Regions from separate parts of the Homo sapiens genome. Here all the other regions are linked to region 2. Evidence: fine-mapped expression QTL. A gene starts in region 2. Each other region holds a variant in brackets. All regions are shown on one strand. Distances are from middle to middle. Region 1 overlaps CD300E (CD300e molecule). Region 2 holds the start of CD300C (CD300c molecule). Region 3 has its middle 20 kb from the start of CD300LB. Region 4 overlaps CD300LB (CD300 molecule like family member b). Region 5 overlaps LOC107985081 (a long non-coding RNA gene). Region 6 holds the start of LINC02074 (long intergenic non-protein coding RNA 2074).

What was found.
Region 1: its variant is fine-mapped to the expression of CD300C in whole blood (INTERVAL, PIP above 0.99).
Region 3: its variant is fine-mapped to the expression of CD300C in whole blood (TOPMed, PIP above 0.99).
Region 4: its variant is fine-mapped to the expression of CD300C in whole blood (TOPMed, PIP above 0.99).
Region 5: its variant is fine-mapped to the expression of CD300C in whole blood (INTERVAL, PIP above 0.99).
Region 6: its variant is fine-mapped to the expression of CD300C in whole blood (INTERVAL, PIP above 0.99).

Annotation. Positions count from the first base shown.
Region 1 is chr17:74,611,048-74,616,119 of GRCh38, reverse strand. It overlaps CD300E (CD300e molecule), which reads left to right. Exons shown (of 4, transcript NM_181449.3): 3 at 2,087-2,195; 4 at 3,347-5,072. The coding sequence ends at 3,467. All of the region lies in intron 3 of LOC101928343 (a long non-coding RNA gene), which reads right to left. Among named protein-coding and RNA genes, the nearest start is that of CD300E, 10 kb to the left of the region's middle. The variant A/G (reference allele first, on the strand shown) is at 3,003.
Region 2 is chr17:74,544,172-74,549,243 of GRCh38, reverse strand. CD300C (CD300c molecule) reads left to right here and starts at 3,129. Exons shown (of 4, transcript NM_006678.5): 1 at 3,129-3,522; 2 at 4,297-4,635. The coding sequence starts at 3,462. It also overlaps a transcript of LOC107985074 not described here.
Region 3 is chr17:74,509,077-74,514,148 of GRCh38, reverse strand. No RefSeq gene overlaps it. Among named protein-coding and RNA genes, the nearest start is that of CD300LB, 20 kb to the left of the region's middle. RefSeq lists an enhancer at 1,433-1,682. The variant C/T (reference allele first, on the strand shown) is at 2,812.
Region 4 is chr17:74,522,873-74,527,944 of GRCh38, reverse strand. It overlaps CD300LB (CD300 molecule like family member b), which reads left to right. Exons shown (of 4, transcript NM_174892.4): 2 at 1,868-2,197; 3 at 4,294-4,366; 4 at 5,045-5,072. The region is part of intron 1 of LOC107985074 (a long non-coding RNA gene); the gene reads right to left. Among named protein-coding and RNA genes, the nearest start is that of CD300LB, 6.1 kb to the left of the region's middle. The variant G/A (reference allele first, on the strand shown) is at 2,513.
Region 5 is chr17:73,933,527-73,938,598 of GRCh38, reverse strand. It overlaps LOC107985081 (a long non-coding RNA gene), which reads right to left. Exons shown (of 3, transcript XR_001752999.1): 3 at 4,953-5,072. The region is part of intron 5 of LOC105371888 (a long non-coding RNA gene); the gene reads left to right. Among named protein-coding and RNA genes, the nearest start is that of LINC00469, 110 kb to the right of the region's middle. The variant C/T (reference allele first, on the strand shown) is at 2,330.
Region 6 is chr17:74,109,788-74,114,859 of GRCh38, reverse strand. LINC02074 (long intergenic non-protein coding RNA 2074) reads left to right here and starts at 1,961. Exons shown (of 5, transcript NR_184085.1): 1 at 1,961-2,214. The variant C/T (reference allele first, on the strand shown) is at 2,425.

The DNA of each region.
Region 1 (5,072 bases), 67 kb before region 2:
CCCTGCAATAGATCACATTTTCTTTTTTCTTTTATTGAGACATGGTCTCACTCTGTTGCCCAGGCTGGAGTGCCGTGGAGCGATCTCGGCTTACTGCAACCTCCGCCTCCTGGGCTCGTGATCCTCCCACCTCAGCCCCCTGAGTAGCTGGTACTTCAGGTGTGCACTACCATGCCTGGCTAATTTTGTATTTTTTAGTAGAGACAGCATCTTCCCGCGTTGCCCAGACAGGTCTCAAACTCCTGACCTCAAGTCATCCACCCGCTTTGGCCTCCCAAGGTGCTGGGACTATAGGAGTGAGACACCATGCCCAGCCTGACATTTTCTTCTCTTAGCAGCACTCATAACTCCCATATTCCATTTCCTTATCTACCTGACAAAACCCTCATCCCTGGATCAATCCTAAAATAAAGGTCACTAATCATCCCAGTTTGCCCAGGACTAAGGGGTTTCCCAAATGTGGGATTTTCAGTGCTAAGGCTAGAAAAGTCCTGGGAAAGTTGGTCGCCCTGTCTAAAATCCACCTGCTCTAGCGCTGCTGGGGAAAAAAAGTGAGAAAATGGTGCCTGTGGCTGCCAGTAGAAGTTAAGAGTTTCCAACATTACTCTCCCATACATCTACCTTCCTGAGAACACACAGGACATCAGTTTCTTTCCTTCTCCACTTGCAAACTTTCATGCAATCTACACTCATTCTTCCCCTTTCCCTTTCGGGTTGAGGACAGGCTTCCCCATCCTGCCCAAGGGTGATCCTCCTGGGGCTGGCTCCTTGTCCTGTGGTTTTCTGCCTCCCCATCCCTCTTGAACCAAATTCCCCTGCCCCCTGCCCCTTAGCTATCCACACCATCTCCTGTCCTCAGACTCACACTCTATCATGTCTCTCACTTCCCAAAAGCATCCCATGGTCCGGCATTCGCCTCTGCTAGGTGCCGCCCATGTTTTCCTCACTGCTGGCCTGGGGGTGGATTAGGCTTCTCCCCTGTGCTCCCATTGCACCTGCTGGGGCTCCTTCCCAGGGCTGCTTCCAGCGGAAGTGAGTCCGTCTGTTTATGTGTCTCTGCCCCTCCAACGGGGTGGGGCTCATGCCACGTCCATCAACGAATCTCCAGCAACAGAGAGGTTGAACGCGGCTTATCGGATCACACTGAGCCTGTGTCGGGCACCGGTGAAGGGCTGAGCCTCCAGGACAACTGCTTTAGGGAGATCATGAGCTGGGAGTCCAGTGGCAATGAGGGAGTAGACTATGTCAATAGTCTGGTGGTCACCTGAAGTCCTTAGGAGGAGCCGAGTGTCAACCTATCCCCTCCCTAGGGGTGGCCTACAGTGGCCTTTCCACATGGGCCGGGCGCGGTGGCTCACGCCTGTAATCCCAGCACTTTGGGAGGCCAAGGAGGGCAGATCACCTGAGGCCAGGAGTTCGAGACCAGCCTGATCAACATGGAGAAACCCCATCTCAACTAAAAATACAAAATTAGCCAAACGTGGTGGCATATGCCTGTAATCCCAGCTACTTGGGTGGCTGAGGCAGGAGAATCGCTTGAACCCGGGAGGTGGAGGTTGTGGTGAGCTGAGATTGTGCCATTGCACTCCAACCAACCTGGGCAACAAGAGTGAAACTCCATCTCAAAAAAAAAAAAAAAAAAAAGAGTGTCCACATGAAGGGTGCTCAGAGCCCCCTCTCATGGTCTCTACGAGGCTTCTTGGGCCACAGGCTGAGCCATCTTCCTTTAGACTCCTCCTTCCCCTCCTCCTCCTGGAACTCCACATCTGGCTGCGGAAGCCCAGAGAGACCCCTGCCCTCACCCCAGGCAGAGTGGGATGAGGGCAGAGTGGGCAGAGTGGTAAGAGTCTTTCTCTGAGATGCAGAGAAAGACCTGGCACTTATTGGAGGGGACTCTCATGGCTGGTTCTGGTAAGGGCTCTTTTTGTCCCTGAGGGGTTTCACCCAGGAGGTGCCCTGGATCTGGCTTCAGAAGATCTTTCCAGCCTCTTCTGTGAGTGGGTGATTCTGTATGACATCCATACGGGTGTTCTGTGCATGGCTGGGAGCCCAGGCACGGCTGATGCATCATTTTCATCTCCAACAGCAATTACAACCCCAAGGAGGACCACACATCCAGCCACACCTCCCATCTTCCTGGTGGTGAACCCTGGGCGAAACCTCAGCACCGGGGAGGTGTTGACCCAAAATTCAGGGTAAGCACGCAGGGCCTGGAGGCCATGGAGGGAGCAACCCTGGGGTGGAAGCTGGGGGGTGGGGGTGGCGCACCGTGACCTGAGATCGTCACTGTCTGCTGTTTCTCTCCATCTCTGGTCCTGATTCTCATACTCTCTGAGGCTGCATGTGGATGCTGAGTGGGAAATATCACTTGTGCTGTGAACGCCTTTCCCTATGGGGCAGCTACTGGGACTCAGGTCGAAGGTTGAGTTCAGGTGGACGTGCAGCCCCTCCTCCCTTCCCCACTCCTTCCTGTCTCCTTCCCCATCCAGCTCCGGACTTGGGGTCCCAGTTCTGTGGCCCTTTTCAAAGGTCTTTGCTCAGCTGGGGATTTTGCCACCAGGAGCTGTCTGTGGGGTCTGTGGGGAGATGGGCCAGCTCCAGGCTGGGGTTTGAATCAGTTCTCTCTCCTCTCCCAAAGATATCCAGAAAGGGCTGTGATATTGCTGCTAGACCCTGAGGGGAGGGAACAAGGAGCTGGAGTGGAACAGTGAGAGTGGTGGCCGGGTGTGGTGGCTCACGCCTGCAATCCCAACAGTTTGGGAGGCCGAGGCGGTGGATCACTTGAGTCCAGGAGATTGAGACCAGCCTGGGCAACATGGTGAAACCCTGTCTCTACTACGAAATACAAAATTAGCCAGGTGTGGTGGTGCGCCTGTAGTCCCAGCTACTCAGGAGGCTGAGGTGGGAGAATCACTTGAGCCCAGGAAGTCAAGGCTGCAGTGAGCCATGATTGCACCACTGCACTCCAGCCTGGGTGACAGAGTGAGACTCTGTCTCAGAAA[A/G]TAAAAAAAGCGAGAGTGGGGACTGGTTTTAAGAAGTCAGTTGATAAAGTGGAGGCTGTGAGTGGGACAGGGACAGAGAGGGTGCTGTGGAGCGCACTCCTGGAAGTGGGTCCCTCTTCTGTCTTCACTCCATCACCTCTCCTTGATGAGACCCCCCGGGCAGTCCTTGATGGAGGGAGAAGGAGGGATGGGGGCCACAGAAGGGGCTGCCCTGGCATAGGTCCTTTCCCTGGCTGCTCCTGGGTTATTTGGGCTCCAGAGTCAGAGCATGGGGAGAGGTGGGGAGAGAAGGGTCCTGGGGGTTCTCCCGGGGAAGTGACTCATTTTCACCGTGTCCACCACAGGTTCCGGCTCAGCAGCCCTCACTTCCTGCTCGTGGTCCTTCTGAAGCTGCCCCTGCTCCTGAGCATGCTGGGTGCTGTCTTCTGGGTGAACAGGCCTCAGTGGGCTCCTCCTGGAAGATAGAGCCAGGCTGACCCGAAGCCCTGCAGAGCCCCATCCCCAGGAGTGCCCCGTGCAGGGAGTCAACCTTTCAGACTGGATGCGAGAGACCTGTGGACTCTGGAGGGATTTATTGTTCCTGTGCCTCAAAGGAGGGTCCTGGCTCTTAGAGGACACTCCTCTGGAGTCCTCAATGTGCAGCTTGGGGGTCCTCCTTTCTCCTCCCCAGTCCCCTGCCTCCCTGCCCTCATGCCCACTTCCCAAGGGCAAGAATTCCCTGGAAGTTGGCCGGGCACCATAGCGAGTGCCTATAATCCCAGCTCAGGAGGCTGAGGCAGGAGGATCGGCTGAACGTAAGAGTTCCAGGCCAGCCTGGGCAACATAGAGAGCCCTGTCTCAGAGAGAGAGAGAGAGAGAGAGAGAGAGAGACAGAGAGAGAGAGAGAGAGAGAGCGAGAGAGAGAGAGAGAGAGAGAAAAGGACGGAGGAAGGGAGGGAAAAAATTTTCTGGAGGAGCCTGGCCCTTCATTCTTCTTGGCACAAATGCTTCTCAGGCCAGTTTCCCCCAGGGCAATAACTACCTCCTTCCTGCAGACAGGAGTCTCCCTGAGGACACACCCCTCACAGCCCCAGCCTTTAGGCTCACAGAGCTCCATCTCTTCTCTGGGACAACCCCAAGGGAGCTTGGTCCCGGCAGAGCTTGCTCATGCAGTTGCCCAGTGTCCCACATGCTCAGGGCTCCTCTCGTCTTCTGACGCCCCTTGGGTCTCCCTGGCTTTAAGGCCCCTTCTCTCCCTGTAACCAGGCAGTGTGTGGCTGGGCTCAGAACATCTCTGCCTGGGTGGGCCGTGGATGAGCTGCTCCAGGTTAAAGTTCTGGGGCGAGTTGAAACAGTAAAGGGAGAAGGAGCTGGTGGGTGCCCCTGATATCACTCCTGGAATTCCCCCACCTGGAGGTGTCCAATGCACAAGGTCAACAGAGTCAGTTCTGTCCACTTTAGAAGTCTGGCTGAGACCACCTGTTAGCAATTAACCTTTTCCACAGGCAGAGCAGATATCGTTTTTCAAAGACAGGATGGAGGGCACAGAGGTGAAGGATACTTGTCCACACTTGAAGTGCACAGTGCTATCACCACTACTGGTGACCCCTGGCTCGGGAATGAGCTCAGTTGGTTTTCTGAATGTTTGTCAATTACTCTGTTTCCCTAAAGTTTGTGGGGAGGACTCCCACAGTCTGCCACAAGCAAGCATCACCATCTCCACTTGCTACCTACATCTGGACCAGTGCTCCCCCTCTGCCCCCAGGCCTGAGCTCATCCTGAGCTAGTGATGCCAGTGTCCAGAGCACATGGAGTGACCCTCTGAGTGCCGAGTGCTTAGGCAGAGCTGCCGTGCTCTGAACTTGAGCTCTGGTGGGGCTCCCAGCTCCATCATGCATGGTGACTAGGGGAAAGATGGGGCTGGCCCAGGACTCATGCTGAAAGAGAAATTCAATCTAACAAGGCCCATATTAATTATATTAACCCGGGAAATATGATGATGAGCAAGAAAGGAGCTTATGATTCATTTTATGAGAAGGATAAGCTCCCAAGTCATTACAGCATAGGAAGAACTCTAGAGCCACAAGAGAT
Region 2 (5,072 bases):
ACACGTGAACCTGATGGACACAGACGCCCTGAGCTGTGACTCCATGTCTCATGTGCACGCCCTGGCCAGCTGAACCTCGAGCTGTCACCAACACCTCTAAGTGCCTGATGCCCTCTCTGCACCTTTCCATTTCTCCAGGAGCTTGGCATTGCTTCCTTCAACGTTTTCACAGGGAGGAGCAGGTCCAGGACTCCCCTGCACCTTTGCCACCATAATGGCCCACACTCCCCGGGTCCAGGAGTGCAGAATATGTGGCTGCTTCCATTTGCTGAGTGTGTCAATTCAATGATGCTTTCGAACTTTAAGAAATGACAATACATAGATTCTGGACCTATCATGCCCACTAAGTCAGACCTGGGTGAAAACTCCATTGTTCCCTGATCTCCACAGGCCTTTGCTCAGAATAGTGGACTAAGCCCCAGGCTGGGCCTCTCAGGACTGGGGTCCCTGCAGAAGAGGATCCAGGATTCCCCCCAAAACCTGACAATTCCGTTCCTTATGTAGACACATCCTGGCCAGTGTCTTCTGGTCCCTGCGGGAGGGCTGGTAGAAGATTATCAGTGTGAGTTGTGGCATGGTAGCCAGGCCTTTCCTTCCTCCTTCCTCAAGGGGACCTGACCTCCCCTTCATTCCAGGGCTGTGGCTTTTAACTGACTCAAATATGGAAATTGGTTGAGGGCCGTGACTTCTTAATGTGGTAGTTAACTGAGTCTTTTGCTTACTAGTGCAGACCATGTCTGCTTATCCAGACAAAGGAAGACGTTATCAGCTGACCATCGTTTCGGTTCCAGGGATGCCACACCCAAGACCCCTGTGAGGCAGATGATCCCCATGAGTCCACCAGGTCAAGGAGGGACACGCCTGGGGGTCCTCACCTATTTTTACATTCAGCAGATACTTATGGGAGCTTCTGGTGTATCAGACACTGACCTGGCATTGGAGTCCAGCCGTGAACACCCAGGCAAGGAGCTCTGTTTTCATTGAGCTCATATTCCAGGCGGGGGATAGAAATGATAAACAGATGCAAAAATACGTGCATAAATTCCAGAAGAAATATAAAAGTCAGAGATGAAAAGAGTCACGGAATGAAATAAGAGAAGTGGGGTGACTGCTGTGCAGGAGCTGAGGGGGACTGTGGTGAAGCCCCTCTAATAGGCGCTGAGCAAGCAGGGATCAGGAGAAAGGAGGGGGTGAGCGCCAGGATCCCTGGAGGAGGAGCCCTGAGGCAGAGAGAGGAGCAGGTGCACATGTCCTGCCAGGGGCAGATGCCTCCCTGGGTCAGGTGGCTTCAGGGCCTCCAGACAGCATTTCCTGTCTCCTCCCCAGCCTGGGCAGGAAATGGTGCACCAACTTTGGATGACTAAGTCCTCTGAGGCAGTGGGACATCAGGATGTCATGTATCCATTCACCCATTCATCCTTTCAACAGCCAGTTTGTTAAACTGCACTTGGCAGACTCTGGAATGATAACGGGCACAGCTGTGAATGAGACAAGAGGCTGCACCTGCTCTCAAGGGGCGGCCACCCTAGATGGGAGCAGACATTGACTCGCCAACAGAAAGACTGAGGAAGACGAGAGGGAAGTGTGAAATGGGTCATGAGGACCCCTAAAAAGCGAGCCACCATAACCCGGGAAGGTCAAGGAACACGCAGGCAACCCTGTCGGCTGGAGCCAGGCAGAGGAGTGGGAGGTTGAGGGTCTGGACAAAGGCCCGAGTGGGGAGGGTGGCAGCACCAGTGTGAACCTGGATCCAGGAGGCTGGAGACACCTACCAGGTGCTGGGGCCTGCCAGGACCTGTGTGCAGAGGCCAGGTCAGGTGGGTGCCATCCTGTGACAGCAGGAGCCATTGGGAGTTCAGCAGCGCCTCCCCAGGGCCATGTGTGTGTGTCAGGGATCACATTGCTGATTCTGTGGAGAATGAAAGGGGTGGGTATGAGCAGAAGGGGAGACCAGGTCAGCCCATGAAAGAGCCGGGATACTTCAAAGCCAGGCCCAGGCCAGACCTGAGCACTGGGCTAATTGGAGGCCCTGGGATTGCACTGGGCTAGAGATAGTCCCATGATGTGAGTCTGGGGGCATCAACACCAATGACCCCAGTGCATGCTGTGTCCCTGAGAGTGTAAATGGAGGGAGGACAGGGCAGGTCGAGGGTGCAGAGACCCCTTCATGGTGCCAGGTTTGCCCAGACTCCCATCACTCTCCACTCAACCTCATGGCTGTGTGCACATACTGGTGCTATTGACTCTGATAGGAAGAAAGGAACAGAAATCTGTAGGAGGGTTGGGAGAGTCAAGGAATATGCTTAAGGCATGAGAAGGTGGAGAAGGGGTGATGCCCTCCAGGACAGACAGGAGGTAAATCCTGTGTCTGACTAGCCTCCTTGCCCTTTCCAGGGTAAAGACACCCTGAGCCCATCACGTCAGGAGAACCAGCCATGCCGAGTGTGGATAGACCTGGGTTCCCGCCTCCTGGGAAGGCCTGTCTGCCATGTCTGCTCCCTGCGGAGGCCCCTGGCCATCACAGTGGACCCAGGATAGACACCAGCAGCCGCTGCTCATGACAAACTGTCCTCTCAGTCACCAAACACCCCTCCGTGTGCCCTGGGGTGTGTGCTGGCTCAGTCGCAGCCTCACATCCTCCACAAAGTCCCACTTCAGCATCTTCACATGTCTGAACTCTCTCTCTATTCTCAGTTCTCTGCCCTGATTCCCACTGGGGCATGGATTTTGGCAAGAAGACAAGATGGAAAAGGAGGGTCTCGGGTGGGTGATGCCGCTGTGTGTGTAGGTCTGGGGGCAGGGGCACAAGAGGAAAACTCCCCAAGCCTGTGGGATTTTAACCTGGTTGGGGACTCAGCACCAAAAAGGGACATGCAGATGGTGTCTGGGTTCATAGCGCTAACTTCTGAGGCCAGAAGAAGAGCTGGGGGTCTTAGGGGCAGAGGTCTCTGCGGGGACCTAGCTGAAGATTAAGGGACACAACCTCTCTCTGGTCACCTCCAAGGCTAAAGAAGGTGGCAGATTTAGCCTCCAACCACAAGATTGTCCATCCTGACCAGGAAGTGACATGTCACAGAGGGTGGAGCAGCCCATGTGGTAGGAAATGGCCCAGCTTGGCTCTGCCTTCTGCAGTGTGAGTAACACACTGAAGCCAGAAGCTGTGGGCTGTGGGGAAGTGGCTGCATCGCCACCCAAGGGACCCTGGACTTTGCCAGACGTCAGGGTTGAGAGGAGCCACTAGCACCATCCCAGAGCTGTCAGCACCGGCCTCAGCCCAGGCGGCTCTCTCCCTGAGCTTCCTGTACCCTGACCCTCTCCAGCCTCAGACCTGAGACAGGGCTGGACAAGGAAGCAGAGAGCAGAAGAAAAGCAGAAGCGAAGCTCAGATCTGCTGGGAGGAGATTACATTTTGTCCCCTCCTGGGGTCTTGCACAGTGGCAGGTGACATTCGTGTTACAGGAATGACTGCCAGGGCCTGGGCCTCGTGGCGGTCTTCAGCTCTGCTCCTCCTGCTTGTCCCAGGTGAGTGGGCCGACCCTGGACTTGGGGAGCTCTGTCCTGAGTGGGAGAGGGCAGGGAGGGGTGCAGGCGCTGGAGTAGCGGTCATAGAGGGGAGTGGGGCAGGGAGAGGGGAGGAGGGCAAAGGAGCACCCAGGAGCGGTCAGCAGCTGCCTCACCAGGGGACAGCAGGCGGCAGGGCACAGCACGGGGGAGGCCTATTCCTCTGTGCCCGAGACAGGAAGCCCTGGTGGGAGGTGATGCTGTGACTGTCATTGCCAAAGTTATCCAATCACAAATTTTATCTGGGACGATCACACACACAGTCACACTCACACGCACACACGGTCACACTCACACAGTCTCACACACATGCACACACAGTCACACTCACACAGTCTCACACACACATGCACACAGTCACACATGCACACACAGTCACACTCACATGCACACACAGTCACACATGCACACACAGTCACACACAGTCACACTCACACAGACAGTCACACTCACACAGTCACACACACAGAGTCACACTCACATGCACACACAGGCCCGCACACACCCAGTGTTTCCCTAGCCTTGCCTTTCCAGTCTCCATGGAAACTTCCCATGCCCTTCCCACCTCTGCACAGAGGGAGCCTCCCACCCTCAGTCCCTGTTCCTGGGTGGACAAAGGCTGCCTGCCTGCCATTGCCTTCTCCACACGCCCAGGGTCCATGAGGGGCTGACACTGCGGCACCCCTGACCAGGCCCCTCTGGTAAGGAGACAGGATTTTGGCTTGTATTTTTCAGGCTATTTTCCTCTGAGCCACCCCATGACCGTGGCGGGCCCCGTGGGGGGATCCCTGAGTGTGCAGTGTCGCTATGAGAAGGAACACAGGACCCTCAACAAATTCTGGTGCAGACCACCACAGATTCTCCGATGTGACAAGATTGTGGAGACCAAAGGGTCAGCAGGGAAAAGGAATGGCCGAGTGTCCATCAGGGACAGTCCTGCAAACCTCAGCTTCACAGTGACCCTGGAGAATCTCACAGAGGAGGACGCAGGCACCTACTGGTGTGGGGTGGATACACCGTGGCTCCGAGACTTTCATGATCCCATTGTCGAGGTTGAGGTGTCCGTGTTCCCGGGTGAGCCCCTCCTTTTCTCAGCACCAGGCCTGCCTGAGCCTAGGGCTGGTCATTCTGTCCCTGAAGAAAGAAGTGGAACAGGAGGGTGTGAGCCTGGGGGTTGGTGAGTCAGGACACTGTGTGCCGCTGTGTGTGGATGAGTGTGAGTGCGTCTTTGTGTATGCGTGCCTGCATAGGAGTTGTGGTGTGGTTTGTGTGTGTGTGCACCTGCATGTGTGTGTTGGGAGGGTGGGCGCCCACAAAAGCACCCTGGCCCTGTGGCTGGAGACCCCCCGCTGTGGGCCCTCCCTCACGGCCTCAGGCCTGAAACTTTCCTGGGTGGGGTCTGTGAGGCCACCCCTGACTCTGGGGTCCTTGCTACCTCCCTGTATTGACAAGGGCCGGATCCATACTGAAGGGTGCCCACTGTCCCGCCTGGGTCTAACTCGCTCTTCCCC
Region 3 (5,072 bases), 35 kb after region 2:
ATGGCATCACCCATCACATGACATAACCCATCACATGGCATCACCCATCACATGACATCACCCATCACATGACATCATGCATCACATGACATCACCCATCACATGACATCACACATCACATGACATCACCCATCACATGACATCACCCATCACATGACATCACCCATCACATGACATCAATGTCCCATAGATAAGCAGAACACTAAATTGATTCTGTAGAGTGAATATGGGATGGAAAAATCCAACTCTAATCATACCCTACTCACCAAGCAGGAAAGACATGCATAAGCTTCACCTGAAAGTCTTATTTTAGGGCATTGTTGTGTAATCCCAGCATTTTGGGAGGCTGAGGCAGGATGTTTGCTTGAGCCCAGGAATTTGAGACCAGCCTGTACTGGCAAGACCCCCCATCTCTATAAAACATTTAAAATAATAAATAAATAAATAAATAAATAAATAAATAAAAACAAAGGCTGTGATTCCAGGAGCAGAATATTTGGTAATGGAACATAAAGAAAGACAAAGGCCAGGCAGGCCATTCGAGGCATCAGTTCAAGTCCATGCCCATGAGCTGCCTCCTGCCTGCTCAGGCAACCTCCCAGGCAGCTGAAATCAGAAAAACAGATGAGGGTCACAAGCATTCAGCTTCCTGGAAAGGAGTGTCCCCAAAATAAATCACTTGAGTTATTGTAGGGTCTCAGTCTCTCTTCTTGTCTGGATGGTGGTCGGGTTCTAGATTTGCAGGAATGAGGACCAGACCCAGGTAAATTCACCAAAGTCGTATCCCAAGAGGAGATCTCCCAACCATGGCCTTTGCATCGTTTAACTCATCAACCTCAGAAGCACTGGGGGGATTGACCCAACCACATGAAACCAGGTTTCCATGGCCCATTTTAGAAGGTAGAATCATCCCCAGGGGCACAGGTAACATATGTCCATCTGCTGGGCCCCAAGCCCAGCACATTCTCCTTAACTCCCACCTCAATGTCACCACTTCATGTCCTCATTAAATCCCACAAGAGGGAGGTCAGAAAGAAGTTCTGAACTTTTTCTGACCTCCCTGCAGTGGGATGAATTTGAGACTCAACACAGGCAGTCGGGGGAGGGAAGAGGAACTTATATCATGAGTTGATAACAGCACTGCGTGACTTGTGCACTCGCCGCATTTTAAAGGCTGGCAGTACCCCATTTTCACAATGTCCATCTCATCTGTCCTCCCTGACAGCTCAGGGTGGTAGGCCAGGCTATTCTTGAGTCCACACTGGACAAGGCTGTAAATAGACTTGAGTCACCTTATTTGAGCTGAGTTCCTTTACCCGTGAAGTACCCTTTGAGTCATCCTTCGGGTACACCCCCTCACCAACCTAAACCTTAGTTTTTATAGCTGCAAGACGGATGGTGCATGACCTCTTCTTCCCCTTTCAGCCCCAACTTTCCATGACTCTGAGTCAGTTTCCATGACTCCCAGTTCAGGCCATTCTAGTCACCAACCAGGCTGGGCTGCCTCAGCCAGCACAAAATTTGAAGCTGGGGGGACTTGCTGCTTCAAAATATCTATAGAGAGTGGCTTTTTCTAAAGTCAACCTCTAAATCTCTGTCCCCAGGAGGAAGGATGTTCGCATTGACAAAGGGTGGAGGCAAGTATTGGGCCCAGTACTAGGGCCCCAGTGATAGGTCCACATTTGAGATAACAGGGAGGCCGGAAGCTCTGCCCTTAGCACACCTTCCTTGCCAGGTGGAAGCTCCCAATGTAGGCTTTGGAGGTCTGTTCCCTCAGGCACGTGGACTCAGGCTGTGCTTCATGCATTGGTCTGGAGCCTTGGAGCAGGCCTGGAAGAGGCTGTATCTCAGATTTGTGTTCTTCAGGATGTTTCTTACCCAGCATTTTGGACACTGAGCATCTGATTGTGAGGATGGAGTCCACACACTGAATGCGTGTGATTCTCTGGTGAGCAGTGTAACTTGAACTCCAGTGGAAGACTGCCAGGCCATGGAGGTGTTGGCAGCAGCCTGGGACTTCAGCTGAAATGTGACTCAGGCCACAGGGCCAGTCAGACAATTCAGGAAAACATGTCCTCAGCAAACAACCAAATAAGGCACCAGGGACCAATCCTGGAGAAACAGGGACCTTTCAGACAGAGAATTCAAAATAGCTGTTTTGAGGAAGCTCAGTGAAATCCAAGATAACTCAGAGAAGGAATTCAGAATCCTATCACATAAATTTAATGAAGAGATCAAAATAATAAAAAAGAATTAAGCAGAAATTCCAGAGCTGAAAAATGAAATAGACACACCAAAGAATGCATCAGAATCTCCTAACAGCAGAATTGACCAAGCCAAAGAAAGAATTACTGAGCTTGAAGACAGGTTATTTGAAAATACAGAGTCAGAGGAGACAAAAGAAAAAGAATGAGAAAGAATGAAACATGCCTATAAGATCTAGAAAATAGTCTCAAAAGGGCAAATCTAAGCGTTACTGGCCTTAAGAGAAGGTAGAGACAGATCAGGATAGAAAGTTTTATCAACGGGATAATTACAGAGAACTTCCCAAACCTAGATAAAGATATCAGTGTTCAAATACCAGAAGGTTCCAGAAACCAAGCAGATTTAACCCAAATAAGACTATCTCAAGACACTTAATAAAAAAACTCCCAAAAGTCAAGGATAAAAAAAAGGGTCCTAAAAACAGAAAGAGAAGAGAAATAAGTAACATAAAAGGGAGCTCCAAAACTTCTGGCAGTAGGCTTCTTGAGGGAAATCTTACAGGCTGGGAGAGAGTGGTATTTAAGTGTTGAAGGAAAAAACTTTTAT[C/T]GTAGAATAGTATATCTAGTGAAAATACCCTTCAAACATGAAGGAGAAATACTTTCTCAGACAAACAAAAGTTGAGCAATTTTATCAACACTAGACCTGTCCTATAAGAAATGCTAAAGGGACTTGAGGTCAGGAGTTTGAGACCAACCTGGACAACATGGTGAAACCTGTCTCCACTAAAAATACAACAATTAGCAGGGCATGGTGGTGCATGACTGTAATCCCAGCTACTTGGGAGGCTGAGGCTCGAGAATCACTTGAACCCGGGAGGCAGAGTTTGCAGTGAGCTGAGATTGTGCCATGCACTCCAGCCTGGGTGACAGAGTGAGACTCTCCATCTTAAAACAAATAAATAAATAAAAATAAAAAAAGAAAGAAGTGCTAAAGGCTAAAGGGAGTTCTTCAATCTTAAAGAAAAGGATGTTAATGAGCAGTAAGAAATCATCTGAAGGTACAAATCTCACTATTAATAGTAAGTACACAGAAAAACAGATTCTAACCCCTGAAATTGTGTGTAAATCACTTATATCTTGAGTAGAAAGACTAAAAGAAGAACCTATAAAATATATAAAAAATAATAACTATGCTTTTTTTTTTTGAGATGGGGTCTTACTTTGTTGTCCAGGCCTGGAGTGTAGTGACATGACCTTGGCTCACTGCAACTTCTGCCTCCCTGGCTCAAGTGATCCTCCCACCTCAGCCTCCTGAGTAGCTGGGACTACAGGTGCACACCACTACACCCGGCTATTTTTTGTATTTTTAGGAGGGACAAGTTTTTGCCATGTTGCCCAGGCTGGTCTTGAACTCTTGGGCTCCAGTGATCTGCCCACCTTGGCTTCCAAAAGTGCTGAGATTACTGGTGTGAGCCACCGCACCCAGCCTAAAGCAACATTTAAGACATTGAGAGTATAATAAGGTATCAATAGAAACAACAAAAAATTAAAAAGTGGGGGGATGAAGTTCAAGTGTAGAGTTTTTTTCTATTAGCCTTATATTTGCTTGTTTGTTAGCTTGTTATTACAATCAGTGTTAAGTTGTCATCAGCTTAAAATAATGAGTTATAAGATATTATTTCCAAGCCTCATGGTAATATCAACTCAAAAACATACACATACAACAGATACACAAAAAATAAAAAGTAAGAAATTAATACATATCACCAGACAAAATCAGCTTCAGTAAAAAGAAGACAAGAAGAAAAGAAAGAAGGAAGGAAGAGAAGGCCAGAAAACAACCAGTAAACAAGTAACAAAAGGGCAGGAGTAGTCTTTAGTTATCAATAATAACATTGAATGTAAATGGACTAAACACTTCAGTCAAAAGACATGGAGCAGCTGAATGGATTAAAAAGAAAAACTAGACCCAAGATCTGTTGCCTACAAGAAACACACTTCACCTATAAAGACATAAATAGGTGAATTAAAGGAATCGAAAAAGATATTTCATGCAAATGGAAACCAAAAAAGAGTATGAATAGCTATACTTATATCACATTACATAGATTTTAAGACAAAACTATAAAAAGAGACAAAGAAGAACATTATATAATAATAAAGAAATCAATTCAACAAGAGGATATAGCAATTGTAAGTATATATGCACCCAACAGTGGAGCACTCAGATATATATTGCAAATATCTTTATAGCTAAAATAATATATCCTCAATACAATAATTGCTGGAGACTTCTACACTACACTTTCAGCATTGGACAGTGCATCCAGACAGAAAATCAACAAAGAAACGTTGGACTTAATCTGTACTATAGACCAAATGGACCTAATAGATATTTAAAAGAACATTTCATTCAGCAGCTGCAGATACACAGTCTTCTCCTCAGCACATGGATCATTCTCAAGGATAGACCATATGTTAGGCCACAAAACAGGTCTTGAAATATTCAAAATAATTGAAATCATATCAAGTGTCTTCAGTGACCACAAAGAATAAAACTAGAAATCAATAACAAGAAGAATTTTGAAAACTATACAAAACATGGAAATTAAACAATATGCCCCTGAATAACTAGTGGGTTAATGAAAAAAAGTAAGAAGGAAATTTAAAAATTTCTTGAAACAAATGAAAATGGAAACACAACACAATAAAATCTATGGGATACAGTGAAAGCAGTATTGAGTATCTACATCAAAAAAAGTAGAAAAACCTCAAATAAACAACCTAATGATGCATCTTAAAGAACTAGAAATGCAAGAGTGAAGCAAACCCAAAATTAGTAGAAATAAAGAAATAATAAAGATCAGG
Region 4 (5,072 bases), 21 kb after region 2:
GAGATCAGGTGGTAGTTTGAACAACGGGGAGTGGCTGTAAATACAGATGAAGCTTCGCTTGCTTGCCCACCGCTCACCTCCTGCTGTAAGGTCCGGTTCCTAACAGGCCATGGGCTGTTACTAGTCTGTTGTCCTGGGGTTGGGAACCCCTATTCTAGGGGAGAATCTGTTTCCCTGCATTTTCCAGCTTCTAGAAGCCATCTGCTTTCCTTGGCCGGTGGCCTCTTCTTCCACTTCAAAGCAGCAACAGACCATCTTCCAATTGGACTCTCCCTCAACCCTCTTTCACTTAGAATATCCATGGAGATTATTCGGGATATTCTTCCTGTCTCAAGGTCCTTAACTTCATCACATCGGCAGAGTCCCTCTGGCCATGTCAGGGGACATATTCGCAGGTTCTGTGTATGAGGATGCCAACAGCTATGGGGGACATTATTCTACCAACCACGAATGCAAAGTTCAAGAAAACTAACACAGCTTCAAGGAGAAGGCCCAAGCTGTGAGGAGGCGGCATCTGCCTGGAGAAATAGACCTGGCTTTCTCCACCCTGCAGAGACCCCTGGCCTGGGCCTGAAGCTCTGAGGCCAAGAGACAGTCAAGAGAGGCTTCCCCTGTGATTCTCTGCCTGTTTATCCACTTCTGCGTGATCAAGAAACCCGTGTCATTGCCAAGGAAAGAGCCTATCTACACACAGCCTAACTGGAGTCAATCAGCGGAGGCACGGACTGCCATTTGATTATGCTCACCTCTAACCTGTTCAGCTTTCACCAGGCCTTTGTTACTCTTGCCACATCCAATTGCTCCACTAGAAAAAAATACTGAAGAAGAGTAGTTCAGGGTGGGAGAGGAAGTGCATTCAATTCTGCAACGAAGGAATCTGGGGTGGAGACATCCAGTGTGTCTTTGTAAATGGTGGGCTAGCTAAGGGGAGTCTGAGCTGCAAATATGGATTTGGGAATCATCAGGAAACAGGTAATCATTAAAGCCATGGAAATGGAGAGACTCCCTCCATGGAGGCTTGTCAGGTGAGACAAGATGAAGGCTGGAGAGGGAACCCTGGGTACCCCCGCAGTGTGCTGGGGCTGGCTCACAGGAGCTGGCTTGGGACATCTTTTCCCAGCTCTGTGTCCAGTGACATCACATGGATTACCTGACATCTGCCACCGTGGGAGTATTTACACTATGGAATTTGGCAAATATTAAAACCAGATTTTTTTTCTTTTTCTTTTTCTAGACAAGAGTCTCACTCTGTTGCCTAGGCTGGAGTGCAGTGGTGCGATCTCAGCTCACTGCAACCTCCGCCTCCCGGGTTCAAGCAATTTTCATGCTTCAGCCTCCCGCATAGCTGAGACTACAGGTGACTGCCACCACGCCCAGCTAATTTTTGTATTTTTAGTAAAGACTGGGTTTCACCATGTTGGCCATGCAGGTCTCGAACTCCTGACCTCAGGTGATCTGCCCACCTTGGCTTCCCAAAGTGCTGGGATTACAAGTGTGAGCCACCGTGCCCAGCTCCTAAACCAGAGATTTTTTCCCCCAGAGGGCTGGTTGTTAAATATTTGGCTCCGATGAAAACAGCATTGAGAGGACAAGGAAAGAAGGTGGTAGGAGACCATGGTGTCACATGCTAAGCAGGTCTAGAAGCTGGTGGGGGAATGGACTGAGAGGGAGATGGGGATGAGGAATCGGGTGTGCTAGAGACACACTCGGGACTCTTAAACACCAAACTGGCTCAGGCAACAGGAGCTGTATCTTGGGATTTTGTTTTCCAGGCTGTTTCTCCATCCAAGGCCCAGAGTCCGTGAGAGCCCCAGAGCAGGGGTTCGTGCCGGTGCAATGAGCTGTATCTTGGGATTCTGTTTTCCAGGCTGTTTCTCCATCCAAGGCCCAGAGTCTGTGAGAGCCCCAGAGCAGGGGTCCCTGACGGTTCAATGCCACTATAAGCAAGGATGGGAGACCTACATTAAGTGGTGGTGCCGAGGGGTGCGCTGGGATACATGCAAGATCCTCATTGAAACCAGAGGGTCGGAGCAAGGAGAGAAGAGTGACCGTGTGTCCATCAAGGACAATCAGAAAGACCGCACGTTCACTGTGACCATGGAGGGGCTCAGGCGAGATGACGCAGATGTTTACTGGTGTGGGATTGAAAGAAGAGGACCTGACCTTGGGACTCAAGTGAAAGTGATCGTTGACCCAGGTAAGAACTTTCTCATCTACACAAGGAGGCCCTGGAGCTCAGGGCTGGGAAAGTCAGTGCTCTTACCTGCTCCCCTCCAAGGCTGAAAGGGAATGATGGTGAGCCTAAGAGAGAGAGAGAGAGAGACAGACAGACAGACAGGCAGACAAACTGACTGGGAAGGAGGTGACAGAAACTAAGGGAGAGTGGTGGCCAGCATCGCTCTGCTATCTCAGTCCCTGAGGTCTCTCCAAGGAATCCAGGTGGGGCTTGGGATGGGGGTGGGAATGGGGACCTCAGCTTTGGTGACTGGTGGCCCAGCCCTGCTCATGACAT[G/A]GCAGAGAAGGAACCTAGAGCTGCCCAGGGGGTCCTAGTATTGAGTCCCACTAACTGCACCAACCCAGAGTAGCTCTGGGTGTCTTACAACACCCTCCTCTCTAGGTCCCCAGCCACCTGCTCCGCTACTTTATCTGGCTGTGTAAGATGAGCACGGGGTAAGAAAGCCCCAGGGAGGTGCATGGGTGACAGTGGACGCTTTAAAGCAAAAGGATGGCTTCCATCACGGGCAACGTCAGGGACCACTCTGGGTGCCCTGGCTTCTCCTCCATGCCTTGGACTCTACTGATAGACTCTGGGGTCATCCTGCTGCTGTTGCTGGAGTCTGGGAAGCAGCCCCCAACCCCCACTTCCACCCGCACACCCCTACTCAGTACTTCATCAGCTCAGTGTCCACTCGGGTCCATTTGGTGGTGATGTGGAAATAGACAATGCCGGCTTTAGAACAAGCCTGTGTACTGTTGGGGTTGGGACCAAAGAGGCACATGGACACAGTGGCTGCAGCTGAGTAAAGAGGAGTCCAGAAAGGGTCAAGCAAGACTTCCCCAGGGCTGCCAAGTAGGGGAAACCCAGAATATCTATGGGGGCAGAGAGGGGATTGAGCAAGACATGCAGGCGGTACAAAGAGACAAAAAACAGTGGCCAGTGTGGAGCTTTAGGGAGAGAGATGTTCCGGAGTCTTGGGTGGGGGATCTACAGGGGTACCAGCCTGTAAAACGATCAGGGGCTCCATAGGAACTGTTGTGATTGGAATTACCTGCAGCTCAGACAGGAGCCCACCTAGTGTGGCCAAAGCCTGGGACTTTTTTGTTTTGTTTTGTTTTATTTTGTTTTGTTTGTTTTTTGAGACAGGGTTTCAGTCTGTAGCCCAGGCTGGAGTGCAGTGGGGTGAACTTGACTCACTGCAGCCTCGACCTCCTGGGCTCAATCAATCCTTCCACTTCAGCTTCCTGAGTAGCTGGGACTACAGGGGCACATGACCACGCCTGGTTCATTTTGTATTTTTTGTAGAGATGGGATTTCACCATGTTGCCCAGGCTGGTTTCAAACTCCTGGCCTCAAGCGATCTGCCTCCCTTGGTCTTCCAAAGTGCTGGGATTACAGGCGTGAACCACCGTGCCTGGACAGCCTGGGACCTTTGAGAAAAATTTGCTGGGGCCGAGGACTGAAATAAAAGATCACTGTTGGGTCATGGATACTCAGTGCTGGGCTGGGCTCAGGGCCCCCCTGACCAGACTGCCCCCAACAAATTGCCTATATGGTTGCTCCTAAAAATGTTCCGTTTCTCATAGTCGATGTTCTCTAGTTAACTGGAGTGTGCCCTTTTCTTCATGAGCCTTCTGGAGTCCCCTTTCCCTTTTTCTGGACTACCCCAATTTCTGGACAGCCCATTTCCAGAATCTTCTCTCCTTAAGCCCTGCTCAGGCACCACTCCAGTGGAAAAGACCAGAAATTTATTTCCCCATCCAATAGTCCCACTTGCAGGATAGGTGGAAAGAAAGTATGAAAAAACCTCTCTCTCCCAGAATAAACTACAGTGTTTACTCCTGTTTAATTTTTAATTTTTCTTGCCACATCTGAACATGATGAGGAAAAATGTCTGTGTGTTGAGATTGAAGTGACTCAGTAGAAGCATGAGGGGCTGTAGCAGGAGAGAAAAATCCTCCTACTCCAGGGAAAAGGGTCTTCTGGTGAGGGCTGGCAGGGTCGCGTGGCTTTGTGACCCATGCATGAGCTCCCAACTGTGCTAATAACCCATGGCTGACTTTGCCTGTGTCTAGAGGGAGCGGCTTCCACAACAGCAAGCTCACCTACCAACAGCAATATGGCAGTGTTCATCGGCTCCCACAAGAGGTGAGTCATGTGGTTCTTTCTCCTGCCCCTACCTGGGGTCCCTCCTAAGGGGAAGCCAAGCCTGGGAACTCCTGCCTGTCACCAAATGCCAGCACCTGTTCTAGCCAGAGTCAAGGCCCCAAGCCCACCCTCCATCTCTCTCCTGCCCCCATCACTGCAATCCACCATCTCCCCACTCTAGCTCTCACCAGAAAACCGCTCTGCAGAACTCTTCTCAGTGAGCATCATTCTCCCAGTCAATCAGTCAACCTTGCATTGGTGGCCTAATGGGTGCCAGGGGGAGATAAGATACCACCCTCTGTGGTGCAAGACATCAAGGGACACAGAACAGGAAGGGTGATTTACCAGCCTGGAGCTAGCATTAGCAGGAACAGAGGCAGGAAACACAACCTGTATTTGGTGACCTCTGGCGCTTCTGTTGAGCTGAGATGTACTTTGGGCAAAGAGGGTCCCAGAAGGTGATGTTAGAAAGGAAGATGGGCCCCGTGCAAAACCAGCCAAGGTGACTGTTGGAGGACCCCTTGAGGTTGAACCAAGGAGGAGGTTTACAGGAATCTTCAGAGTGGGGCTGCCCGGCCCAGGGTCACAGGCTTTGGCTGGTGGCTCACAGGGTCAGGGGATGGGAGTGACATGGCCTGGGGATGCCCAGGGCTCTGACCACTGCATCCCCTTCCCCAGGAACCACTACATGCTCCTGGTATTTGTG
Region 5 (5,072 bases), 610 kb after region 2:
ACAAGATGGATAGCCCTCAGCTAGGCAGCATTTCCCAGCTTCTTCTTGGTTTGCACTCTCTGCACCTCTCTTTCTTTTAACCTTTTTTTTTTAAGGAAAACATTTTTAGAGACTTTAATAACTGTGGAAGGATGCTGTAAGGCGGGCAGGGAAATTGATCATTTTTATTCGGTTGTGCGTGATAAAATGTAAGTTTGAGCCATGAATCTTCTTACCTTGAGGGAAAAGAACGGTGTGCCTGGCTGTTAATATGACTCCCTTTTTGGAGATTTTAATGAAGGAATCCCGCTCCCCACCGCAGATTAATTCATAGCTGTGGACAGGGCGGGGCTGAGGCGGGAATACACTCTTTCCTCCAATCTAGCAACTGCTGGTTCCGTCTCTCTCCACATCTGCGTGTATTCGCTGTCTATTATTTTTAATCAATGTCTCACCAAACACATATAAAGCTCCCACTGTGTGCAAGACACCATGCCTAGCACCAAGGAGGGGAGATGCTGAGGAGTATCTCAGAGTCCTGTGTAAGTTGCCCAGAAGAGGGCTCCTCTCCAGGCCCTGCCTGTGAGCACCCCAGATACCTCCCCACTTGTCTTGGCCACAGCTATATCCCCCTACTGGAACATGGCAAGAGATGAGGCACACGGCTTGTGTTGGCCACAGGACTCCATTTTGGGTACCCTAAAAGGAAAGGCAGGGCTGCAGTCTCAGTCAGCTTGGGCTTCCATAACAGAATGCCATAGACGTTTATTTCTTACAGTTCTAGAAGCTGGAAGTCCAAGATCAAGGTGCCAGCTGATGTGGGTCCTGGTGAGGCCTCTCTTCCTGGCTTGCAGATGGCCACCTTCTTGCTGTGTCCTCCCGTGGCAAGGAGGGAGGGAGAGAGACTGACAGCGCATGCATGCTCTCTAGTCTTTTCCTTCCTCTTCTTATAAGGCCATTCATTCCATCATAGGGGCCTTACCCTGTGACCTCATCTAACCCTAATCACTTCCCAAAGTCCCCACATCTAAATACCATCCCACTGGAGTGTTAGGGCTTCAATATATGCATTTTGAGGGGACACACATATTCAGTCCGTAACAGACCTGTGTTGTGGAGCTCATTTCCTCTTTCTTCTTCTTAGGGGGTTGAGTATGGTGGAGTTGGAAAGTGTGATGTATGGTGTGGGGAGAGGACAGAAAGCGACCTCTGCTGCCAGGCGGAAAAATGCCCACCCAACTACTCCTGCCACATCAAGTCTGTGGCCAGAGTGTAGGAGGGTTCAGGCCACTGCTACCTCCCGCATCCTTGCCCTAGCATCCCTTCCTCAGGTCCTAATCCTAAACCTCCATCAGCTCCCTGCTTTCTGGATCCCTCCCGCAGCCAGGCCCCTCTCTTGCTGTGGCTCACCAGTCATCTGGACATTGCTGGCAATAAGCTTCCTTAAACATCCATGGTGCACACGCTGCTCTGCAAACAAAGACAGGGCATCCAATTATTCCAAAAACAACCTGTTTCTGTTTGCTTATCTGACTCGGACTGTTTGCCCCTGACATCGCTATTGATCAATTTGAACTTTTCCCCTTCAAGTCCAACATGATTCATAATTTGTGGTTGGGAAAAGCCACCTGGGCAGTGGGCCCCCTGGGACCAGGCCCTGTGCACCCATAATCTCATTTAATGCTCTATGTGGTTGGTATCATGATTTCTATCTGAAAGACAAAGAAAACAGGGGCTGGGGGAAGGTGAGCATTTATCCAAATCTCCCAGCTTATAGGTGATGGTTATCAGAATTTGAACCCAGGTCTGTCTGTTCCAAAGACTGGCCCCTCTCTAATACATTGAGATGCCTCCTGTGTAGGCACCCAGTTTTGATGGTCACCCCAATTCAGAATTGCAATCAGACAACAAACACCAGAGAATACAAAAGGCTGATTGTGACTCTGCGTAGGGAACAAGTGTACCAAGCTGTGCCGACAGTTTGATGGTGGGTCAGTGTGACATCTTGGAAAAAATAGCAGCTGATTATATTTTTCAAATCGACATGTGTTTTTAAAGACTTTTGAATCAGATGTGAGTCAGGAGCATTAGGGCAAAAGTGTAACACTTTTTTTTTTTTTTTTTTTTTGAGACGGAGTTTCGCTCTGTCGCCCAGGCTGGAGTGCAGTGGCGTGATCTCGACTCACTGCAAGCTCCACCTCCCGGGTTCACGCCATTCTCCTGCCTCAGCCTCCCGTGTAGCTGGGACTACAGGCGCACGCCACCATGCCCGGCTAATTTTTGTATTTTTTTTTTTTAGTAGAGACGGGGTTTCACCATGTTAGCCAGGATGGTCTCGATCTCCTGACCT[C/T]GTGATCCGCCCGTCTCGGCCTCCCAAAGTGCTGGGATTACAGGCGTGAGCCACCGCGCCCGGCCAGTGTCACACATTTATATTTGGTGAATGTGGGAAATTTCTCCCATGAAAACAAAGTGAGCAGTCACTCTTGAGGTCTGGGTGCATAAATTATAGTACATTTATACCATGCGATATTATGCCCTATTGAAAACAATTAGAGCAATATTGGAGGACAGAGAGAGAGTTCCCCAAGGTATTGTTGAGTGAGGAAAACAAGATGCAAGAAACTGAATATCATATATTTCTGCAAAACAAATAATGACAAAAGGCTGGCTATACATGTATAAGTGCACACATGTGTATAAGTGAATGCATGTGGGTGTGTATAAAAAGTTACATACATGTATGTACATACATGTCTACCACATGTAGTGTGTGTATGTATATATTTATACAGGATAATATGATCATGAAGAAAAATGTGGAAGGATCCCTACTAGGCTATTAGCATGAATTTCTAGTGGTTATGGGTGGAGGACAGAGGAGAGGTGTCAAGGAAAGTCAAACTAACAGGAAAAAAAACTAAGAGTCTGCACAAACACACACACACACATACACATGAATCATGTAATGACAACATTTATGCATTTAAATAAAGGTATAGGCATTCATGTAAATACATTCAAAGAAAAGTTGTAAGTTATTTTCCTACAGCAACAGAGCACTTACCCCAGAGATCTGCATGAAGGCATGACAGTGAACAGGCCTCTGCAGATCCAGACGGTACAGTCTAGAGGCTGGGGACAGCTACTAGGAAGCCACATCACTGGCTTCCCACTCCCTGCAATGGGAAGGGTTGGTTTATTCCTTGGCTTTACAGCCGGCACAAGGAAGAGGGGTACCTGTGTGATTTGGGGGTCTTCTCCAGCTGCTGCCTTAGAGTCCCCCACCTGGTTCAGGGGTAAGTGAAACAGTAGAAGGGGAAAATAAACTCTTTTCTACTTCTACTAACATTAGGGTAACCGTAACACTGATCATTTAAACAGGGACCACTTTGAGAGTGAAGAGCAGAACTATGAATAATTCAGGTGCAAACCACGACTGTCCCTAGCACACCTGGCTGTAGGGTCACCCTAGCTATAGCTCCTAAATGGGGGGTCTACATTCTAAATTTCACCATCTTCTCCATGCAAATGTGAGTATTAATTGATCCAGAACCCTGTAATTGTTGTAACTGGAGCCCAACAGGACTGAAATTACTCTTAATTATCATCCCATCCCAGGAGGGAGGGTCCTTTTCCCTCAAAGTTACAGAGACACGTGGTGAAACCAAGGGGGACGGGTGTGTGGCTTCCATGGGGCCCTGCTTAACCACAAATGTCAATGCTCTGGGCTGAGCAGGGCTGGGATTCCTGCACATGCTCTGTGTGGTTGGCCTGATCTATAAGAGACTAAATAATGACCAGGCTTGCTGCTAGAGCACTTTGTAGCTGATGTGTCTGGCATCACCAGCTTGGATTACTAAATGGGTACATGCTGATTAATCTACAAATTAGGTTGATGAACCCCCACCCTAGCTGTCTCAAGGATTTGTATATCTCCCCGGTGCCCTTCTTCCCAAGCATCCCTTTGTTAATTCAAGGGATCTACACAGAGACTGGTATTTGGACCAGGGCAGAGAGAAAGATAGAGGGGGAAAGATTATTTTTTCCCAAACTATTAATATCTACTAATCTGAAATGCCATAATTGAGGGCTAGAGGCAGCATTTTTCTTGGCTAGCAGGGGGAAAGCTATTTGAAATGGCCTTGAGAATATGACTAACATGAAGGAAGCAGACTGCAGAGATAAAGATGAAAGAAAGACCCTGATGATACTGTTTGAGCCACTTGCACCCTCTTCCTTGTGCTGGATCTTCAGGAGCACCTGAAGTCTGCTCCCCAAAGTTGGCAGAAAGAATAATGGCCCCCAAAGACATCCACATCCTCACCTCTAGAATCTGTGAATATGCTACCTTACATGACAAAAGGGGTACTGCATATATGATTAAGAATTTTGAGATGGGGAGATTACCCCAGATTATATGGGTTGGCTCAGTGTTATCACAAGGGGAAGCAGAACAGTTAGAGTCAGGGAGGGAGATGTGGCCATGGAAATAAAGGTCAAAGTTATGCCATTGCTGGAAGTGGGCTGTGAGCCAAGGAATTTCAGGCATTCTCAGAACCCAAAAGGCAAGGAATGAATTCTTCCCTACATCTTTTAGAAGGAATGCAGCCTTGCCACCATCTTGGTTTTAGCCACATAAACCCATTTCTGGATTTCTGGCCTCCAGAGCTGCAAAATAACACTTTATGTTGTTTTAATCCACTCACTTTGTGGTAATTTGTTACAACAGCAATTAGAAAACCAATACTCTCAGCTTTCTGGTGGCATGAAGCAAATTTTCTTGAGTTAGACTTGATTTTCCATCATTTGTAACCCCAAGAATCCTGTACTAGTAACCAGCTCCAGGAGGACTAACATCCCTTTCCAGAACAGCCCAACTACGATACTCTCCCAACTTGTCCTTTACCTCAGAAGTCCTATAACTAGGGCTTGAGAGGAACATGGGGACAGATTCGTCAACTTTCTCCTGCAAATGAAAAATCCAGTCAGGCTCAGATAGATCCAATGACTTGCCTGAGCAGTTGAAGGGGTTTCTACCCAGCATGGGTTCTAGATCTGGAGTCCATGGACCGGCTGCTGTGGCCCAGTGGACC
Region 6 (5,072 bases), 430 kb after region 2:
GTGGCTTATCCACTGGGGGATTCCCTCCTTGCCTACTCAGCGCCTTGCAGGTGACAGGTGCTGAAATCAGTGCAAACAGAAATGAGAGGATCCCCAAATCAAAACCAGGAAATATTCCTGCCACTCAGCAGCTCTCCTTCCCGCTCCCCGGAGACAGGTGGCAGAACTCCCTATTATTGTCTTTGGGGGCAAATTGAGCCTGGGGCAGAGGAGGGAGAGAGAAAGACAGCTCAACTTGGGGTGGCAGGTCACAGATTATGTCCTGATTGTAAATGTCTGACCCCTGGCCCACCAGCTCTCCGTGTAACCCTCTTCCCCAAACAACCATCTCCTGATTTTCCTGTATCCCCGTCCCGTCTCCACCTCCCGCCTGCCCCTGCCCCCACCCCCTCCCCAGTTCAGATCTGCCTGGAGGCCTGGATGGCGACCATATGTTTAAGATGTTCCACTGCTGCTGTTGAGAGCCAGAAGGGCTGCCTGGGAGAAGGCACTCAGTCAAAGCTGTGTTTATATACACAAGGGCCGGCGTCTTTTTATTATGCATAATTATACGCTTCTTAATGTACAGGCATTTCGAGCCATTTTTCCTTCCTTGGTGAAGTCGCAGCAGAGGCGGGTGTGAGTCCGGGTGCTTGGGGGCCGGGAGATGGCTGCTCTTGTCTCCTTAACTCGGGGGTGCTGAGCCCTGAGCATGGCGGGTCCCTCGACCGATCAGCGTGCGAGGTCGCTCTGACCGAGAGAACGAATTCTTCCAAGGGGATCGGGGAGCCGGGACGCGGTGGTACATCGTGGAAATGTTGTAGATCATGAGGTGAAGCCCTCTCTCTCCCTCTTTGTCTTTGAGCCAAAGCCTCAGATACGCACTCCTGCCCTCATCCTGAAAGAAAATGTTAGATCCTTCCTACAAAGCATTGTTTTACATCTATACCCAGCGATTCTCCTCTTCTTTCTAAATTTCACAAACTTAGACTCTGAAAACCTGACATTGAGAGGTGACAGCATGCTGGCAGCCCTCACAGCCCTCGCTCGCTCTTGGTGCCTCCTCGGCCTCGGCGCCCACTGTGGCCGCGCTTGAGGAGCCCTTCAGCCCGCTGCTGCACTGTGGGAGCCCCTTCCTGGGATGGTGGAGGCTGGAGCCGGCTCCCTCAGGCTGCGGGGAGGTGTGGAGCAAGAGGCACGGGGGCTAACCGGGGCTGCGCACAGCGCTTGCTGGTAGAGTTCCCCGGGCGTGGGTTTGGCGGGTCCCGCACTCGGAGCGGCCGGCCGACAGTGAGGGGCTTAGCACCCGGGCCAGCAGCTGCGGAGGGTGCGTCGGGTCCTCCAGCAGTGCTGGCCCACCGGCGCTGCGCTCGATTTCTCGCAGGGCCTTAACTGCCTCCCCGCGGGGCAGGGCTCGGTACCTGCAGCCTGCCATGCCTGAGCCTCGCCCCTGCCCTCGCCCCCGCCCCCGCCCCCGCCGTGGGCTACTGCGCGGTCCGAGCCTCCCTGACAAGCGCCGCGCCCTGCTCCGCTGCGCCCAGTCCCATCTACCGCCCAAGGGCTGAGGAGTGCGGGCGAACGGCGCCGGGCGGGCAGGCGGCTCCACTGGGTGAAGCCAACTGGGCTCCTGAATCTGGTGGGGACTTGGAGAATCTTTATGTCTAGCTCAGGGATTGTGAATGCACCAATCGGCACTCTGTATCTAGCTCAAGGTTTGTAAATGCACCAATCAGCACTCTGTGTCTAGCTCAGGGTTTGTAAATACACCAATCGACACTGTGTATCTAGCTAATCTAGTGGGGATGTGGAGAACTTTTGTGTCTAGCTCAGGGATTGTAAACGCACCAATCAGCACCCTGTCAAAACGGACCAATCAGCTCTCTGTAAAACAGACCAATGGGCTCTCTGTAAAATGGACCAATCAGCAGGATGTGGGTGGGGCCAGATAAGAGAATAAAAGCAGGCTGCCGGAGCTAGCGGTAGCAACCCGTTTGGTTATCTTTCTGTGCTGTGGAAGGTTTGTTCTTTCACTCTGCACTATTTTGCAATAAATATTGCTATTGCTCACTTTGGGTTTATATTGCCTTTATGAGCTGTAACACTCACCATGAAGGTCTGCAGCTTTACTCTTGAAGCTTAGCGAGACCACTAACCCACCAGAAGGAAGAAACTCCGGACACGCCGCCTTTAAGAACTGTAATACTCAGTGCGAGGGTTCACGGCTTCATTCTTGAGGTTAGTAAGACCAAGAATCCACAAATTCCAGACACAACATGGTAATATATGGGGTCACTATCCTTATAGTGAGGGTTAAGCTTTAAATCATCACAATGAAAGCTTTTTGTTTCTCTAGCGTAGCAGCAAGGGAGAATAAGGCCTCTGGAGTCCAGGACTTGGGTTCAAATCCAAGCTCCACCGTAGCTGTGTGACCTGGGTTTATCATTT[C/T]GCCTTTTTGAATTTCGGTTTTCATTGAAATAATGGGAATAACATTAGTTCCTATATCATGGAAAGTACCTAGCACGGTCCTTGGTGCCTTGTAAATGCTTGGAAAATTATCCTTTCTCCTGTGGTGATGGTTCTAATAGACTGAGTTTTATGAGAGCAAGAGTGGGTGTCTCCCATCCACTGCTTTCTTTTTGATACCCTGAACTCTGCTGATGGCAGCAAACATTTGCTGAATCGTTGTTGAACAAGGAATGAATGAACACCGGGTTTGGAATCAGGGTCTTTTTTTGAGACAAGAGTCTCACTCTGTCTCCCAGGCTGGAGTGTGGGGGCTCCATCTCGGCTCACTGCAAGCTCCACCTCGGAGTCACGCCGTTCTCCTGCCTCAGCCTCCCAAGTAGCTGGGGCTACAGGCGCCCACCACCATGCCTGGCTGATTTTTTTGTATTTTTAGTAGAGACCGGGTTTCACCATGTTAGCTAGGATGGTCTCAATTTCCTGACCTCGTGATCTGCCTGCCTTGGCCTCCCAGAGTGCTGGAATTACAGGTGTGAGCCACCGCACCCGGCCAGGGTCTGTGTTTCATTTACCGACTGTGGGGCCAGGCCGTACAAGACCTCTGAGCTCCACAGATGCAAAGTGAAGAAGTTATGGATTGGCCCCATAGGCATGTGACGATGAGATTAACTGAGAGGCGCTGAGATAAAGCACGTGAAGTGTTTAGCTTGGTACTCGGTGTCAGGTCATGTCCAATTTTATTAGGAGCTTATATTCCATTCTGTAGCAGCTTGCTATTTTTATTTTTTTTTACTTTTTTTTTGAGACAGTCTTGCTCTGTCGCCCAGGCTGGAGTTCAGTGGCGCCATGTTGGCTCACTGCAAGCTCCGCTTGTCGGGTTCGCGCCATTCTTCTGCCTCCGAGTAGCCGCTTGGCTAATTTTTCTATTTTTGTTTAGTAGAGATGGGGTTTCACTGTGTTAGCCAGTATGGTCTCGAGAGATCTCCTGACCTCGTGATCCACCCGCCTCAGCCTCCCAAAGTGCTGAGATTACAGCGTGAGCCACTGTGCCCGGCCGCAGCTTGCTATTTGAAAGCATTTTTATTTCCATCACCCCATGTGATCTTCAAAACAACCTGTGGGCTGGGCAGTCTTCATCCCACAAATAAGAGGGTTTCAAGCCGGCCAGTGGAATCCCAGCGCTTTGGGAGGCGAAGCAGGGGGATCGCTTGAACCCAGGTGTTTGAGATCAGCCTGGGCAACATAACAAGATCCTTTAACTATAAAATTAAAAAAACCAGTTTCAGAAGGGTGAAATGACTTGCCAGCCACAGTGTCCAAGCCCCATGGCACTACCCGCCCCCTACCTATCCCGCCTTCCTGTTTGTCACTTTTGTTCCAATGCAACTTATTTGGTCCTTTGAGAGTGTCCCAGACTTTTAAATGTAGGAGATGCTGGAGCTCTGTGGTGTACATAAATCTTTCTTTGAAGCCTGCTTCCACCAGGAAGGCCCCCTAGGATGAAAAGACTTAACAGTCCAAAATGTTATCAGCCCACTTTGGAGAGCCCTTTTCTGGGCCCCTACCCTAGTGGGGAAGCACACACAGACTGCCAGGCTGTCATTCATACGGAGTTCACCCTGGGAGGAGCAGACAGATTACTGTGTGTGGGGCAGGGCACTTCCCACACACTTGCGTGGGGTTTCGAGCGGGGACGGTGGCCAGGGGCCCTGTGTATACACATTTTTTTTGTTTGAGACAGGGTCTTGCTCTGTCTCCCAGGCTGGAATGCGGTGGCGTGATCACGGCTCACTGCACCCTTGATCTCAACAAGCAATCCTTTCATCTCAGCCCCTCAAGTAGCTGGGACCACAGGCACGTGCCACCAGGCGTGGCTCATTTTTTTTTTTATTTTTGTAGAGACAGGGATATCCCTATGTTGTCCAGGCTGATTTTTGAAATGTGCTCAAGCGATTCTCCCACCTTGGCCTCCCAAAGTGTTGGGATTACAGGCATGAGCCGCCGTGCCCGGCCAACGCATATGCTCTGTGCTGACAGATTTCTTCTGAGCTAACAGATGTTGTCCTTTGACCCATATTGACCCTGTTGGAACACCCTAAATATTATTTAGCTGTCTCTCACCAAAACATTACAAGTTAGGCAGTTAGAGCTGTTTTTCAGATTTACCTGGCTGTTATGTCTTTTTTTTTTTTTCTTTTTTTGAGATGGAGTCTTGCTCTGTCACCCAGGCTGGAGTGCAGTGGCGTGATCTTGGCTCACAGCAACTTCTGCCTCCCGGGTTCAAGTGATTCTCCTGCCTCAGCCTCCGGAGCAGCTGGGATTACAGACACCCACCACCACGCCCAGCTAATTTTTGTATTTTTAGTAGAGGCAGGGTTTCACCGTGTTGGCCAGGCTGGTCTCGAACTCCTGACCTCAGGTGATCTACCTGCCTCGGCCTCCCAAAGTGCTGGGATTACAGGTGTGAGCCATCACACCTGGCCCATCCTGAATTTTCATCTGCTAAACGTAGCAACCCTAAGGACTGGTGACTTCCCAGCGTTGGGGCAGCTGCAGCTCTTCCCAGCTCCACTCTGAAGAGCTGGGGACCAGCCTGCCTTCCGGTCTCACCAGGAGCAAGGGAGATGCCA